Linked DNA regions of Homo sapiens: region 1 is linked to region 2. The links come from fine-mapping of genetic effects on gene expression. A gene starts in region 2. The other region holds a variant in brackets. All regions are shown on one strand. Distances are from middle to middle.

What was found. PIP is the estimated chance that this variant, and not a neighbour inherited with it, causes the effect.
Region 1: its variant is fine-mapped to the expression of LGALS12 in breast (GTEx, PIP 0.98).

What each region holds. Positions count from the first base shown.
Region 1 is chr11:64,433,638-64,436,653 of GRCh38, reverse strand. No RefSeq gene overlaps it. Among named protein-coding and RNA genes, the nearest start is that of LINC02724, 14 kb to the left of the region's middle. The variant T/C (reference allele first, on the strand shown) is at 1,652.
Region 2 is chr11:63,504,723-63,507,458 of GRCh38, reverse strand. LGALS12 (galectin 12) reads right to left here and starts at 1,375. Exons shown (of 9, transcript NM_033101.4): 1 at 932-1,375. The coding sequence starts at 1,000.

The DNA.
Region 1 (3,016 bases), 930 kb before region 2:
CTTGGAGACAATGAACCATGAGGCTGACAGCCAAGGAGACCTCAGGGATAACCGGAATAGCAAAAGCCAGCATCCCATAGAAGGCCCCAGGAACCCCCTCCAGGGCCTTTTTCATGCCTGTGTGGTGGGCAGCCTGCCTGCCTGACAATAGCCACAGCCATTGCCTGATGCAGTCCCAGCCTGGCCACCCCCAGGCAAACAGGGGAGAGCCGGGGACACTCACTCTGCACCAGCTTGGGGTCTCTTGGTCCACTTCTAGAACCCACTGAGGGGGGAAGATGGTGCAAGTCTGGAGAGAACAGCCCTGCATCCCTGAGTACCTCTGTCCTAGTTCACAACCATGTTGTCAGATGACTCATTTTTCTTATAAGCTAAGTCCAGAGCTTTTGGAAGCCAGACAGAGAGCTTTGTAAGAGGTGGACACACCTGCCCGAAGTTGGAGTTTCCTGCACCTGCACCGAGGAGAGGATGGTGGATCTGAAAGGTGCCCCCTCCGCTGCCCGCTTCCTGGCCCAGAGCCATGTGGTAGGCTCTCAGTGATGCTTCCCACATCATCTGTGCAGAAAACCTGTTTCTCTTTGCTGCCAGCAAAGCTAATTGCTGAGTTAATTGGCAATGTGTTGTTAGGTGAAAAAGAGCAAGTTATAAAACTGTATTTATAGTTTGACATTATTCTCAAAGAAAAATATGTATGTATGTTCATGTGTGTTCTGCATGTGTGTGCATGCATGTGTTCATGTGTATATGTGCATGTGTGTGACGGAGGAGTGTCTCTCTGTGCGAATATAAATGGACATGGAAAACAAGAATAGAGGCCAGGCGCGGTGGCTCACACCTGTAATCCCAGCACTTTGGGAGGCCGAGGTGGGTGGATCACCTGAGGTCAGGAGTTCGAGATCAGCCTGGCCAACATGGTGAAACCCTGTCTCTACTAAAAATACAAAAATTAGCCGGATGTGGTGGCGGGTGCCTGTAATCCCAGCTACTCAGGAGGCTGAGCCAAGAGAAGCGCTTGAACTCAGGAGGAAGAGGTTGCAGTGAGTCAAGATCACACCACTGCACTCCAGCCTGGGTGACAGAGCGAGACTCCATCTCAAAAAGAAACAACAAAAAAAGAAAACAAGAATAGAACAGGACTGCTCACTGGGAACAGTTTTGCTCCCCACCCCAGGGGACATTTGGTAATGTCTGGAGACATTTCTGGCTGTCACAGCTCAGGGGGAATGTGCTTCTGGCATCTAGAGGGTAGAGGCTATGGACGTTGCTAACCACCCAGCAGTGTACAAGACAGCCCTGCAGCAGAGAACCCGCAGGCCCCAAGTGCCAATGGTGCTGAGGTTGACAGACCCTAATCTAAGCAGTTGTCCCAAAGAAAGGAATCACCCAGGAATCATTAAAAACATAAATCCTTAGCCCTTACCCAGGTCTACCGACTCAGACACTCAGGATGGGGCCAGGGAATCTGTGTCTTTAACAAGCCCTCCAGGTGAGTCTCACACGTGCTCCCGTCGGAGAGTCACTAGTCTAAGAATAGGCATCTTTTATCTCTGAATAGGGGCACAGTGACTTTTATGTTTTTCTTTTTCTCTATATTTTCTAACGTCTCTATTTTAGAAATCACGACATATTACCCTTGTGATCAGAGAAAATA[T/C]AATCTAAGGTCTTAATGAATCCGTGATAGTGAAGTTTCCTTGTCAGTTGGGAAGAGAACAGAAGGTTCCCAGACCAGCATGTTAATCCTGGCTCCATTTAGGAAAACACCTACGTGACCTTGAATGGGCAAGGTGAGCGGAGCCTCAACTGCCTCACCTGTGAAATGGGGATTACAATGCTCCCTGCCTCGCAAGGTTCTTGGAGGGATGTGTTGAAATCCCAGACAAAAGCACCCAGTGCTGTTCTGAGTTCCTGAGAGGTGGCCAGTAGGTCCACCCAAGCCCACCTTGGGTGGAGGTGATCTTGCCCTGATGTGAGCCAGGCTCGGCATGGACAGGAACCTCCCGGGCCCACCCTGGACCCCTTTCCTTGTAACCAGAGCTCACACGGCACAATCATTGTAGGGAATGGTGTTCCCTCCCCACATTCGTAAGAGCTTGGTTTGCTTAAGCAACACCTCCTAAATGTTCACACGTGTCCAGCCATTGTTTCTGATGAGGGGGACACTATGTTTAGGGGTATTTCCTCCATGCATGCATTAAACCGGATGCTGTCAGATACTATTGCAGAACAAATAAAGTCTGTTCCACACTGGGGAGAATGCCAAAGACAGCACCAGCTCCACTGCCCAGGCAGTGACTGCACTGAGCACTTCTGTGAATGTGCAAGACTGACCACGTCTAGACCAGCCCCACCCAAAGCCAGTCCAGCCAATCAGAACTCAGATCTGCCTTGAGTGCCCCAGGGTGGGGTGGGGGGCAGGGGGCCCCACACACAATCAGGACTCAGGCACCAGCCTGGAGTAGGACTCCTCCATCCTTTATGTCTTATGGGTCACCCAACAAATCCAGGTGCACAGCTGGAGGTAAATAATAAAACAACAAGGAGTACTCATTGCCAGAGCAACTCCCAGCAAGACGGGGCTTGGCAAGGGCGAATGTCTGAATTGGTTCTGCAGTTAGATGGCAGGCGGCACTTTGCATGACCTTGGACAAGTGGCTCGACCTTGCTGGGCCTCCATCCCTACATCTGTGAAGCAGGTTGAAGGGCACGCCCATTCAGGGAGCTCTTACAAGGATCTGTGAGGTCACTGGCCTGCAGCGCTGAGTGGCCCTCGGTCTGTCCCACACATAGTAAGTGCTCATTAAATGGTGGCTCTCGGACGGGCGCAGTGGCTCATGCCTGTAATCCCAGCACTTTGGGAGGCTGAGGTGGGTGGATCACCTGAGGTCAGGAGTTCAAGACCAGCCTGGCCAACATGGTGAAACCCCATCTCTAGTAAAAATACAAAAATTAGCTGGGTGTGGTGGTGCATGCCTGTGGTCCCAGCTACTCAGGAGGCTGAGGTGGGAGAATCGCTTGA
Region 2 (2,736 bases):
GTGCCTCACCTGACGCCGTGAGGGCTCTGCATAGATGTGTTTGGAATGAATGTGAGCAGGATGGCAGGTACATACCAGTGGTATCACAGGATTGGCCTTCCTGTGTTGCTCTCTAACTCCCAACAACCTTTAGGAACCCAAACCACCTAGAAAAAACTGAAAACCACCAGGATGGCCCTCCAGGTGCGAGCTCTCAGCCTCTAAAGCAAGGAGCTGCCGTAACCTGGGCAGCTGCTTCAGCCCATTCCTCAGGCACCTGAGAAGCATGGGAGGGAGGCTTGGGATGCCAGCTTGGCAAGCTCAGCTGGTTGGTTCAGCAGTTGATCACTTCCCATTCCCAGGCTCCCTCCAGGCCTGTAATTAACTGAGTGGATGCAGCTCTCATGGGAGGGGAGGGCCAAGTAAGGGAAAGTGATAATTAATGCTCATTAGTAGGGGGTGTCTGCTGGGAATTCAGCCTTCTGTAAATCATTGCCTGGCTTCAGAAAACCTCTTGGGCACTGACTGAGCTGGAGGAGAAAGAGAGAAACACCCCCAACCCCTATCCCTGAGTGGAAATTCCCACCTGACCCTTCCTTCCAGGCTGGGGATGAGACTGTCCTTACTAAGTAATCAGCATTCCCCCAACAATCCTACCCCCACACCCTCATCCTCCTAGCATCCATTACAGTAGGGGCAGAGCACTGTGGCTCCAGGCTTCGCCACTTTCAAAATGCAGTGACCCTGGAAGCCTAGCAGTCATTTACACCCAAGTGGGAATTAGCAGTCAGCCACTTTACTAAGCTCAGGAGGGCCTTCCAGAACCCAGGGCAGGTGCTGGGAGAAGCAGAAAGACTGAGGTCCTTTCCACCCCACCACCCAGGAGTGTGGGCCCAGTTGGAAGGGAAGAGCCCAGAGACCGAGGAGGTTCCACATTAGAGTGACAACTCACCGGGTGGAAGACTGGTGGTTGCAGAATGAAGCTGTCAGGAATTGGGTCCAGTTTTTCTCCAGGTGACATGACAGTGGGGCAACTCCAACTGTAGATCCTCGTTCCAGGAGCCCTGCCCCCACTGGGCTGACTCATCTGCCCCAGTCAGGGTCCTAAATGCCTGGAGCAGCTCTCCCAGCTGTTAGTCTCACCTGCGACCTGCAGCGTTTTAATGCTGTCTGGAGCAGCCCTAGGAGGGCAGCGGGCGACCTCCAGGCTCCACACCAGCCCCACTCCCGGTGGTATACAGCAGAGCTCTGGCTGGGCGGGGGCTGTCAGCAGAACTCAGTGTCCAGGGGAGGAAGACTGGCATTAACCAACTAACTACCCACTCCGGGTCTGCAGCACATGGCCATTGCAGAGAGAAGCCAGAGGCTGGCTCCTGTGGGGCCAACGAGGGTTTGTGGTTTCCAACTCGAGCCCTCATTAGGTCAGAGGAAGGGGAGGTGGTACGTGTGCTTAGGTTCCAGAAACAGCCCCACCCCCAGCTCCCTGGACAGCCTTGGGTGACTTCCCATTCCTTCCTCCCTTCACCACAAAGGGTTTTATCTCTTCCCCTCATTTTCTTTTTTTTTTTTTTTTTTTGAGATGGAGTCTTGCTCTCTTGCCAGGCTGCAGCGCAGTGGCGCGATCTCAGCTCACTGCAGCCTCCGCCTCCTGGGTTCAAGCAATTCTCCTGCCTCATCCTCTCTGGGACTACAGGCATGTGCCACCACGCCCGGCTAATTTTTGTATTGTTAGTAAAGACTGAGTTTCACCATGTTGGCCAGGATGGTCTCGATATCCTGACCTCGTGATCCGCCCGCCTTGGCCTCCCAAAGTGCTGGGATTACAGGCATGAGCCACCACGCCTGGCTCTCTTCCTCTCATTTTCTTGCCCCTTCCTCTACTCTTCTTCCTTTTCCAAGTTTTACAGCCCCCTGAGGCTCCATTTCAGCATCAGCTGGAAATGCTGGGGCCCAGCTGGGGTCACAAGAAAGTAGAATGAGGGAAGGGGAAAAAGCAGAGCCCCTTAAGCTTGGAAAAGGCAGCACAAGAAGCACAGAACTGCGCAGGAGGGAGACTTGAAACTTGACTTCCTCTTCAGCCTCTCGTCTAATGTGCTGTGTGCCCTTGGGAAAGTCACTTCCTATCTCTGGGCCACCCTTTGTTCATCTGTACATGGAGAAAGTGACCATAGCAGCATGTCCCACAGCGAGGCCTGTATCTGGGGGTGGGCCCAAATATCTGCATTTTACTACAGTCCTTCCAGTTCTGGTTCAAATCCCAATAAGGCTTTCCCTTTAAAAAGCAGCACAACCTCTCAACTTTATCCTGAGTTAGGAGGTTCCAGGATCTGACCCATTGCATCAGACTTGGCAGCAGGGAATTCCTGGACCAGGACCAGGCTGGGCAAAGGCTCAAGCGCATGGGGTGCTGAGGGCAGAGTAAGCAGCTCCCTGGATGGAGGGAGAGTGCATGAAGGGTCCTGGGATAAGGTATCTTAGCCAGTGCTACCTAAGCTGTGGTCCACAAGCCACCAGCATCAGCCTCACCTGGAAACTTGTTAAAAATGCAAGTTTGGGGTCCCCACCCCAGACCAACTGAGGAGCACTCTCTGGAAGCTGGGGCCAGGAATCTGCATTTTAACAGCCCCTCCAGGTGATTCTGATGCACTTTAAAGTTTGAGAAGCATTGACTTAGGATGGAACTAGAAGGGCTTTGGGTGCGGAGCTGAGTTTGTTCAGATGTTGCCGAGTAGGTGGAGCTGGGTTACTGAAGGTGCT